3 separate regions of the Homo sapiens genome follow, and regions 1 and 2 are each reported to be linked to region 3. Evidence: microRNA targets listed by miRTarBase, many of them from high-throughput screens and not tested one by one. Region 3 holds a microRNA gene; each other region holds the end of a gene's coding sequence.

Region 1 (3,246 bases), not on the chromosome of region 3:
CGGACCCCAATGGTGATGGGGGATGGGTGTCCCCTGCCAGGCACACCCCCTATTAGGGCGGAGACAGCCTGTGGCCTGCCGGCTTCTCATCAGTCACTGTGGAGAGACCAGGGTGCCCACCCGAGGCCAGCCAAAGGCGTACTCCGCTGCTTGGAGCCCCTCGGAAGCTCTAGGGGACGTGGTCCTTGTCAGGGGTCTGGCCAGGGACGGGCCCGGTGCTGGGTGGAGCAAGCTGGGCTGGGGTCCAGGGGTCTGGGGCCACCCTCTGCTGGCCGAGGCCAGACCTGGACATGCAGGAGCTACAGCCCTGGGCATCCTGGGAGGGGACTTGTCCGGGGAGCTGGAGTGCAGGGGGGATGGTGGGGCTCATACACTGCCCTCCCCCAGCCCCCCCGGCACCCATGCAGAGCATCTCCAGCGGCATCAGGGAGACAGTGAGCCCCCAGGACATCGTGCAGGACGCCATCCACAACTTCTCCCCCGCCTACCAGCACTACACGCAGCAGGCCACGCACGAGGCGCCCAGGCCCGGCACCCACCCCAGCGGCGGCTCCGGCGGGAGCAGGAAGAGCCGGAGCCTGGAGAAGCGGATGCTGATCCCCTCGGAGGACCTGTAGGGGGGCCTGGGCTGCCAGTGCTGTAGGGACCCAGGCTGCCCAGGCCTCTGGGGAAGAACAGGGTCCCCCCACCCACCAACTCCTGCCAAAGGTGGGGCCTCTCCTGAGAGCCCACCTGTGAGGCCCTCGGAGCCCACTTCCCATCCTCCCTCCAGCCAGGGGGTCAGGGCACCTGATGGCCCTGGCAGGCACCCAGGTGGGCCCGCCACCGCAGGAGAGGGCACCTGAGCCAATCGGAAGAGCCTGGGGACCCCCTGGGATCACCCAGCCATCAGCCCCAGGAGCCACTGTGGGGCGGAGAGTGAGTGTGGCTGCGGGGCCTTGGCTGCACGGACCCCATGGGAGCTGTGAGTGGGTCAGACTCCCTGGTTCAGGAGACAGACAGCGGACGGATCCCAGGCTGGGCAGCTGGAGGGAGGGGCGCCGGGGCGCTGGGCAGCCGGGCTCTGACACAGTCAGCAGCTCCGGGCGCCGCAGGCCGGCGGGGTCCACACAGGCTGGCCGGGGCTGGGCCTCCTTGGAGCCTGCTACGGCCCTCGTGGGCACGTGGAGAAGGGCCCACGTGTCTCCACACGCCAGCCACAGGGGAGCCCTGGCCAGGCGCCCAGCCAGGGGAGCGTGTGCCTGGGATGGGTCACAGAACCAGCGGGCACCTGTGAGGCTGGCCAGCACCGTGGGGCTGTGGGAATCGCTCTTATTTATATTTAAACACCTTGGATTTTCTACCGGGTCTTGGCTTCTGTTCCCGCAGGGCATGAGCCTGAGGAGCAGGACGCGGTGGGGGTCACAGGAGGCTGCTGCTCAGAGTCTGCATGCGGGAAAGGGGTCCCACCTGTCTGGGGTGGGCAGCCTCGTGGTCCAGGGCAGTGCAGGGCAGAGCCTGGGCTGTGCGATCACAGCCACTGCCTTTCTCCTGGGAGCCTCCACTTCCTCCAAAACGGGCCTTGTGCCAGCCCCACCCGCGGCGAGCGGACAAGGCCACGAAGGCAGGGCCCTGAGTACCTGGGCGGGGGGGACACTCCCAGGGGGCACAGAGGGGGCTCCCACCTGGGCACCTGCCTCCTGCCCTTCTCTTCTTCCTCCACGTGCCAGGTGGGGCCCTGGGTTTGAGGAGCCTCGGACGCGTGCCCTGCCCGCAGGAAGCTGGAGGCGTGCAAGTGGCCTCGGAAATCGCGGCCGCAAGAACAGTAGCCGCCCAGGGACTAAGGGGGCTTCTGGGAGGACACACGGCTGGCCCAGGGCGAGGGGTGTCACTGCAGGGCGCCCCCCAGGCCCAGGGCCCGTCAGGGGACAGTACGGTGACCCGGCCTGCAGGTGGCAGTCAGTTCTGTGTGTCTGGGGCCCGCAGCACAGGTTGGGTGGGGGCTGGGGCAGGGGCAGCAGAAGTGGGCAAGGCCTGGGGGGCTCAGGCACTGGGCGTGGAGAGCAGACAGGAAGCTCCAGTGGGCACCACCCCGGGACCGCGGCTCCCACCCGTGCTGCCCCCCACCCATGGCCACGGTCACCAGGAACAGCGGGACCTGGGGTCTCCGAGGGACTCAGCAGGGCGGGCACAGACCAGTGGAGTCCGGGCTAGAGAGGGCCAGCTCCCAGCCTCTTGCTTCCTGGGCTGAGGACATGGGGATCCAAGGCCAGTGGGTCTGCAGGGCCCAGCCCGGCTGCCTGATAAGATAGGCTGAGCTCCTCCCTGCACGGCTGCAAAGACGCCCACCTGTCTTATTGGATCCCCACAGGAATAGACCCACCAGGCGGCCCCCGTGTCTCACTCTGTCAGCAGGTCCCCAGGGACCTGCTGCCGAGGGGCAGTTTCTGGAGGCTGGGGGCACTGGCTGGGCTCTAGGCCTGCTCTGCCCTTGCCGTGGGGAAGGCCACCCCGATAGGGGTCAAGTTGCTCAAATCTGCGTTTGGAGGGTGTGTGGCCGAGGGCTCCCTTTCTGGAGACCCAGACACCGCCTGGGCTCCGGGCGGCAGAGGCTGAGGTGTCAGGGGCTGAGCCCCTATGTCAGCAACACCTCAGGCCTGCACTTTAGGACAGGGGAGAAGTCAGTTTCCGCCAAATGCCCCCTCAGACCAGCCGAGGACTGTGCCAGGAAACTGACATGCTCAACGCTCAAGCCAGCTGGGACAGCGACCGAGCCCAGAGAGACGGAGCAAGTTGCCTGAGGTCACAGAGCAGGGACTTGGACACCAGGCAGCCGGCTCCACAGAGGCCCTCTCTCCTCCCTGCCTCCTGACCCTCAGACGCCTCCGCCCCACGGGTGAGGCTGCTTCTGCTTCTTTCCAACACGACTCGAAGGAAAGCCCTGAGGGCCGAGCCCGCTCTGCGTGGACGGAAGGCAGCGTGGGGCGGTCCAGGCCGGGGCTCAACCTGCCTCGAGGGGGAGCGTGGGCGCATGTGAGCGGGAGGGACGGAGACTAGCGTGGTTCCAGTGTCGTCATCGCTGCTAAAAAAGGGGTTTCCCGGTGACAGGCCCCGACAGAGGAGCAGGCCATGAGGCAGGCAGGAGCCGCGTATCTGGGCCCAGCGCACCCGCCAAGCTCTCTAGCCTCTCCTGGCCTCAGTATCCTTCTCTGGGAGATGGTCCAGCTGAAAATCCCCAGCATCCACAAGAAACGGTGGAAGCCCTGG
Region 2 (3,246 bases), not on the chromosome of region 3:
GACTTCAGGTGAGGGCTGGGGTGGGCAGGAATGGAGGGATTTGGAAGTGGAGGTGTGTGGGTGTGGAACAGGTATGTGACAATTTGGAGTTGTAGGGCTGGCAGACCTCAAGATAGTTCCGGGCCCAGTGGCTAAAGGTCTTCCCTCCTCTCTACAGGGTTTAACAAGTGCGCAGTGGGAGCTGCCTGCCAACCTTTCCATTTCTACTTCCCCACACCCACTGTTCTGTGCAATGAAATCTGGACTCACTCCTACAAGGTCAGCAACTACAGCCGAGGGAGTGGCCGCTGCATCCAGATGTGGTTCGACCCAGCCCAGGGCAACCCCAATGAGGAGGTGGCGAGGTTCTATGCTGCAGCCATGAGTGGGGCTGGGCCCTGGGCAGCCTGGCCTTTCCTGCTTAGCCTGGCCCTAATGCTGCTGTGGCTGCTCAGCTGACCTCCTTTTACCTTCTGATACCTGGAAATCCCTGCCCTGTTCAGCCCCACAGCTCCCAACTATTTGGTTCCTGCTCCATGGTCGGGCCTCTGACAGCCACTTTGAATAAACCAGACACCGCACATGTGTCTTGAGAATTATTTGGATATGAATGGGAACGTGACTGTTTTGTTTTCCAATTCCCATTGATTGAAACCAGTGAGACTGGGCCAATTCCTAGCTCTGACAGTTGCTATAAACTAGCCTGATACTTAACTATTTTTCTAACTTAGGAGACATTCGTAGCTCTCAATTTCATTTTTTACTATTGCTCCAATCTAGAGCCAAGCCCAGGAATTTTTCATTTGTTTGTTTTGAGACAGGGTCTCACCCAGGAATATTTTGTTTGTTTTGAGACAGGATCTCACTCTGTCACCAGGCTGGAGTGCAGTGGCATGACCTTGATTCACTGTAACATCTGCCTCCTGGGCTCAAGTGATCCTCCCACCTCAGCCTCTCAACTTGAGACTGCAACCATGTGCCACCACACCTGGCTAATTTTTTTTTTTTTTTTGAGATGGAGTTTCGCTCTTGTTGCCCAGGCTGGAGTGCAATGGCATGATCTTGGCCCACTGCAACCTCCTCCTCCCAAGTTCAAGTGATTCTCTTGCCTCAGCCTCCAGAGTAGCTGGGATTATAGGCATGCACCACCATGCCCGGCTGATTTTGTATTTTTAGTAGAGACAGGGTTTCTCCATGTTGGTCAGGCTGGTCTTGAACTCCCGACCTCAAGTGATCCGCCTGCCTTGGCCTCCCAAAGTGCTGGGATTACAGGCGTGAGCCACTGCGCCCAGCCCCACCTGGCTAATTGTTACATTTTTTTATAAAGAGGAGATCTTGGTATGTCGTCCAGGCTGATCTCAAACTCCTGGCCTGAAGCAAACCTTTCATCTCAGACTTCAAAAGTACTGGGATTACAACCGTGAGCCACCACACCCAGCGCAGTCTCAGCTCACTGCAACCTCTGCCTCCCACATTCAAGCAATTCTGCCTCAGCCTCCCGAGTACCTGGGACTATAGGTGTGGGCCACCATGCCTGGCTAATTTTTGTATTTTTATTAGAGATGGGGTTTCGCCATGTTGGCCAAGCTGGTCTGGAACTCCTAACCTCAGGTGAACCACCCACCTCAGCCTCCCAAAGTGCTGGGATTACAAGTGTGAGACACCATGCCCAGCCTAGCTCAGGATTTTATCATTTAAACTGAACATAAGCTTCCCAGGGTTGATTCCTGTGCTGTGCTCAGCTCTCCAAAAGAAGAGGTGGGAATGGCTGTACCCAGCATGTTTTGGATGGGTTGCTGGGAAGAGGGTAAGGGTGGCAGCAAGAGCCATATGGCACTAACAGCTAATACCCACAAAGCATTTTCTGCTAGGCACTATCCTAAACTGTTTATACCGATGACATGTAGATACTACTGTCTGCATTTTCCATATGTAGAAACAGACACATAAATTAAAGAACATTGCCTGGCCAGGCACAGTGGCTCACACCTATAATCCCAGCTCTTTGGGAGGCCAAGTCGGGCGGATCACCTGAGGTCAGGAGTTCGAGATTAGCCTAGCCAACATGGCAAAACCCTGTCTCTACTAAAAATACAAAACTTAGCCGGACGTGGTGGTGTGCACCTGTAATCCCAGCTACTCGGGAGGCTGAGGCAGGAGAATCTCTCGAACCCAGGAGGCAGAAGTTGCAGTGACCAGAGATCACACCATTGCACTCCTGCCTGGGCAACAGAGCGAAACTCCGCCTCAAAAAAAAAAAAAAAAAAAAAAGAAAGGACATGCTCTTTCCCATCATGGAGTGAATAAATATGTGTGTCTTGAAGGGATAATGGGTCCATGGCTGACCAGAGGAGCTGGGCCTAAGCTGCTCTGCCAGAGCTAGGATGGGAACCCAAACTTCGACTCCTAAGCAGGTTCCAAACCAATAACCTGAAGGGTTTTAAGGCAGCGTTCTCCATTAAATATAGTTTGTAACCTTTGTATTAAGCCAGGTTATATTACAGTAACATTCGTAATATTTCTGTGGCATCATACAACTCACCTTTTTGGGTTTTTTTTGTTTGTTTTCTTTCGTTTAGAGACAGAGTCTCTCTCTGTCACCCAGGCTGGAGTACTGGCATGATTATAGCTCACGGCAGCTTCAAATTCCTGGGCTCAAGTGATCTTCCTGCCTCAGCCTCCTGAGTAGTTGGGACTACAGCTGTGAGCCACAACATCCAGCTAATATATACACATATAAAATATGTATTATATATATACAATAGTAAAGACAGGGAGGTTCTCACTATCTTACCCAGGTTGGTCTTGAACTTGCACTGAAGTGATCCTCTCAAAATGCTGGGATTACAGATGTGAGCCACTGTGCCTGGCCACAAATCATGTTTATTTCTTGCTCAAGCTGCAATGTTTAATGTGGGTTATCAGAGGGATTCTGTTCATTTCTCTTTCCTGGACTACATTAGCAGCCAGGGGGTTCTGCTTCTCATTCCAGGCCCAGGCTGATGGAGGCTCCATCTTCTATGAAACAGGAAGAGGGAACTTAGCGAATTCCATAAGGCTCTTCAAATTTCCACCTGTCACTTATATCATTGGCCAAATCAAGTCATGAGCATGCCTAAATTCAAGAAGGCCAGGAAAACATGATCTTATCATGTACTTGGAAGGACAGGAGAATCACAAGGTTTGCAACAGACCTCGTTGTTTTCTGGTCAGTTTCTATTTCATGCACGGTCATAGTTACAAATTTAATTTTTTGGTTAGATCCTA
Region 3 (3,246 bases):
AAAGGCAAGGGAAAGTGTGGAGAAACAAGTTAAAGGCAAGAGGCTGGAAAGAAATCGTGGGGAGGGAAAGGAGAAGACTGGAAAAGGGGATAGATAGAGAGGGAAGGAAATGAACACAGAAGAGAAGAAAGATGAAGGCAGAGGTGAGGAAAAGGGAACAATGAGGCAGGAAGGGGCCGAGGAAGGGTCTTAGGGAAGGCTGAGGCATGAACAAAGGCTGGCAGGGGTGTCGGGGGGCAGCCACCTTGCAAGACTGCTGGTGCATGTTGAAGGTGCTGACGATGCCCTCTGTGACCTCACGGCCAGAGCGCTCCACCAGGTACTCGGCCAAGCGATTGGTCAGGTAGGTCTTGCCCGTGCCGCTGGGGCCCGAGAGGACGAGGCGCCGGTGCTTCAGCAGGAGGCTTATGTAGTGCTGCATCATCGGCTTGGGGATCAGCGTCTCGAACACCAGGCTGTCGACGCATTTCTCCTTCAGACCTGAACCCCCACCCCAGAAAGCATGAGTATTGACCAGGGTCTTGAGGATAGCAAGGGATCCTAAAGGGCTTTTCTTTCTTTATCTAGGAGCCCCCTGAAGAAACTCAGAGCCACTTGCCCCATGGTTCCATAAGAGTCCCTTAACCCCTAGTTTTGAAAACTTAGATCTTCTTTTTAGGGACATGCTGTGAGCTGGGGGTGAGGAGTGAAGCAAGAAGCCAAGGCTTAGCAAAAGTGTCCCTGGGAGCCAAAGTTAGGACTGGGTCTTACTCATCTTTTTATATCTCACATTACTTAAGCATCTTCATATTATACCTTCTCAGTGAGTTCTTGGTGAATGAATGCATGATGGATTATTTGATGATCCTGTCCCTGCCTTCATGCCACACCACCTCACCCCAAGAGACAAAGACTGACCTTTGAGGGAGACTGATATGTTATTGACACCTCGACGGCAAGGAGGCATCTCGGGGGGCTCTGCATCCAACACTCGTTTCACGTGGCTGATGCTGTAGCCATGGATGGACTCAGTGCTTAGTCCCAGGGTAGAGGCTGGGTCCATTTTAGAAATATAGTCCTGACAGAAAAGACAGGCAGAAGAAGAAGAAAATATACAAACACAGGTGTAAAAGCCACAACAAAGAATGTCTATCAGAGGAAACAGAAATAGATGGAGAAAGTGCAGAGCATATGCTTTTCCTAGGTAGCATTTCTCCATAAAGCCTCAAAGGTCCCCAGGATCCCAGTGCCTGGACGGTTTAATATCCTGTGAGAAGCCATGCATGGTGGCACATGCTTGTAATCCCAGCTACTCAGGAGGCTGCGACAGGAGAATTACTTAAGCCCAAGAGTTCAAGGCTGCAGTGAGCTGTGATCACGCCACTGCCCTCCAGCCTGGGTGGCAAGAGTGAGACCCTGTCTCTAAAAAAGTATATATATTCCACGAGAGGATGAACAACCTTTTTGAGTACAGGTATCCCTTTACCTTGAACACTTGGAAAACAGCTTCATCCAGCATCTTCCAGTCAACTTTTCCACTGACCTTGCTACAGCCCAGGAAGAATTCCTGCTGCTTCAAGTCCTGTAAGGCCAAGGAAGGAAAAGCTCTTGAGCTTCACTGCAGATGACTCCATGAACCGGGGTCCTAAAGGCCTTAGGAGTTGAGTTCTTTGGTTTTGGAGGTACCCAGGGTCCAGATTTTCTTGGATAAATGTAACAGTATTTGTTCATTCCCACTGTGGCTCTCCCTGAAGTTCCTTACCCCTTTGATGATGTGCTGCGGGGGCATCCTCACCACCACCCGGAGGGTCACTTCCTCCTTTGGACCACAAGTACTGATGCCATCCATGGGTGACAGGTCTGTGGGGATTGAAAAGAACCAACTGGTTTTAGGAGTACCCGCAGCCTTTCCTAAACTTTCCCATCATTATCCTTTCCAAAATAACTCTGTTTGCCACAGAGAAGGAATGGAGGTCCCAAACTCAAAAGTAGTTAAGGTTGAAGGACCATTACAACTCAGTGTCTTAGGACACTGGCATCTGCTTGGCTTCGGCATTGTTACCGCCCTGACCAAAGCAAGTGGAATGGTGTAACAGTGAAATAAGCCCTTTTCTTCCCTTCACCCTTATAGATTCTTCTCCCACACAGGTACCTGTGTCTGCAAGACTGGGGCCGAAGGAATGGGTGAGTGCCAGGCCTAGGGAGCGGCGTGGGGAAGATAATGCAGATGATCCAGGGACCTGCCCTGGAGTGGAGCCTGATGAGGGGCCTGGGGCTACCTTCAGTCGGTCATTCTCTGCTTTCAGCAGGTCCACCTCCAACTGTGGCAAGAACAGACAGGGTAGGGTGGCAGACTGGACAGACAGCAAGCCTTGGTCTTCCCTTTCCTGCAGCTGTCCGCCCAGACACTGACCTGCATGTTGTGCATGGTCTCCCGAAGCTGATCCAGTTGGTGGGCAGAGTTGAGGGCCTCCAAGCGGATGTCTGTAAGCTTCATTTCCTTCTCCCATAGCTCAGAGCGCAGCTCCGATACCTCCTTCTTCTCTGGCTCCTCCTCCTCATTTGCATGGAACAGCCTAGTGTGGGGGGCTGGGTGAGCAGGGCCCCTGTAAGATAGCAAGAGTCAAGCCAGGCTACATGAAGAAGCACTAGAGTTACTAGAGAATATTGAGAGGCATGGTTGGTGGTCTTGGCTTCTCCTGCCCATTGATATTCAATCAGCATGAGAAGAAAGGTCCATCTGTTGGTCTCATATGCCCAGGGAGAGGTCAGTAATAAGTACTGCTTGTCTAAGGTCTAATGGCCTCCTGTCAACTCTAGCCCACAGCTTACACTGGTAACAGGCTGGGTGGCAGGGAGCCAAAGAGCACTTACTCGGTGACATCAGTGCCCACGGAGGACGAGGTGGAGGACTTGATGGAGGGTGAAGCAGTCTCTGTAGAACCATGCTGTAGTTTGGGGGATGAGGGGGCTGAAGAGTCGGGTGTAGCAATCTCCTCTATATCCGAGTATGAGGAAGCTGACTTGGGCCCCTTTTTTATACTGAACGCTTTGTTGAAGGAACTTCGAAGCTAGAAAAAAGCAGATCCAGGTAGAGGGACATTAGGACTCCACTACTGGGATGGGGGAGGACTGGATTGAGACTTCTGAGACAGAGAGAGCTGGAGGCGGGGGATTTACTTTAATTAAGCCACCCTCTATAACACTTCACTTGATTCATAGAATACGGACAGAAGAGTTGCCTAGAAATTAGGACCGTGGAGGCAG

The links. Region 3 holds the annotated microRNA hsa-miR-1231 (GUGUCUGGGCGGACAGCUGC, at 2,369-2,388, opposite strand). A microRNA usually pairs through its seed, bases 2 to 8, with sites in the 3' UTR of a target mRNA and lowers its output. Matches are read on the target gene's strand: a 7mer-m8 pairs with bases 2 to 8, a 7mer-A1 pairs with bases 2 to 7 and ends in A, and an 8mer does both.
Region 1: miRTarBase lists TMEM184A as a target of hsa-miR-1231. Seed matches in the 3' UTR shown: 7mer-m8 at 2,560-2,566.
Region 2: the mRNA of FOLR1 is a reported target of hsa-miR-1231. Seed matches in the 3' UTR shown: 7mer-m8 at 549-555.

What each region holds. Positions count from the first base shown.
Region 1 is chr7:1,544,323-1,547,568 of GRCh38, reverse strand. TMEM184A (transmembrane protein 184A) reads left to right here. Exons shown (of 9, transcript NM_001097620.2): 9 at 388-3,246. The coding sequence ends at 617. Among named protein-coding and RNA genes, the nearest start is that of TMEM184A, 10 kb to the left of the region's middle. RefSeq lists an enhancer at 3,000-3,149.
Region 2 is chr11:72,195,740-72,198,985 of GRCh38, forward strand. It overlaps FOLR1 (folate receptor alpha), which reads left to right. Exons shown (of 4, transcript NM_016729.3): 3 at 1-8; 4 at 158-560. The coding sequence ends at 438. It overlaps FOLR1-AS1 (FOLR1 antisense RNA 1), which reads right to left. Exons shown (of 3, transcript NR_199595.1): 2 at 2,774-2,997. Among named protein-coding and RNA genes, the nearest start is that of FOLR1, 5.2 kb to the left of the region's middle.
Region 3 is chr1:201,807,757-201,811,002 of GRCh38, reverse strand. It overlaps MIR1231 (microRNA 1231), which reads right to left and starts at 2,392; the gene lies at 2,301-2,392. NAV1 (neuron navigator 1) reads right to left here. Exons shown (of 34, transcript NM_001389617.1): 22 at 2,854-3,050; 23 at 2,393-2,585; 24 at 2,132-2,300; 25 at 1,742-1,839; 26 at 1,466-1,561; 27 at 898-1,057; 28 at 245-480. All of the region lies in intron 2 of IPO9-AS1 (IPO9 antisense RNA 1), which reads left to right.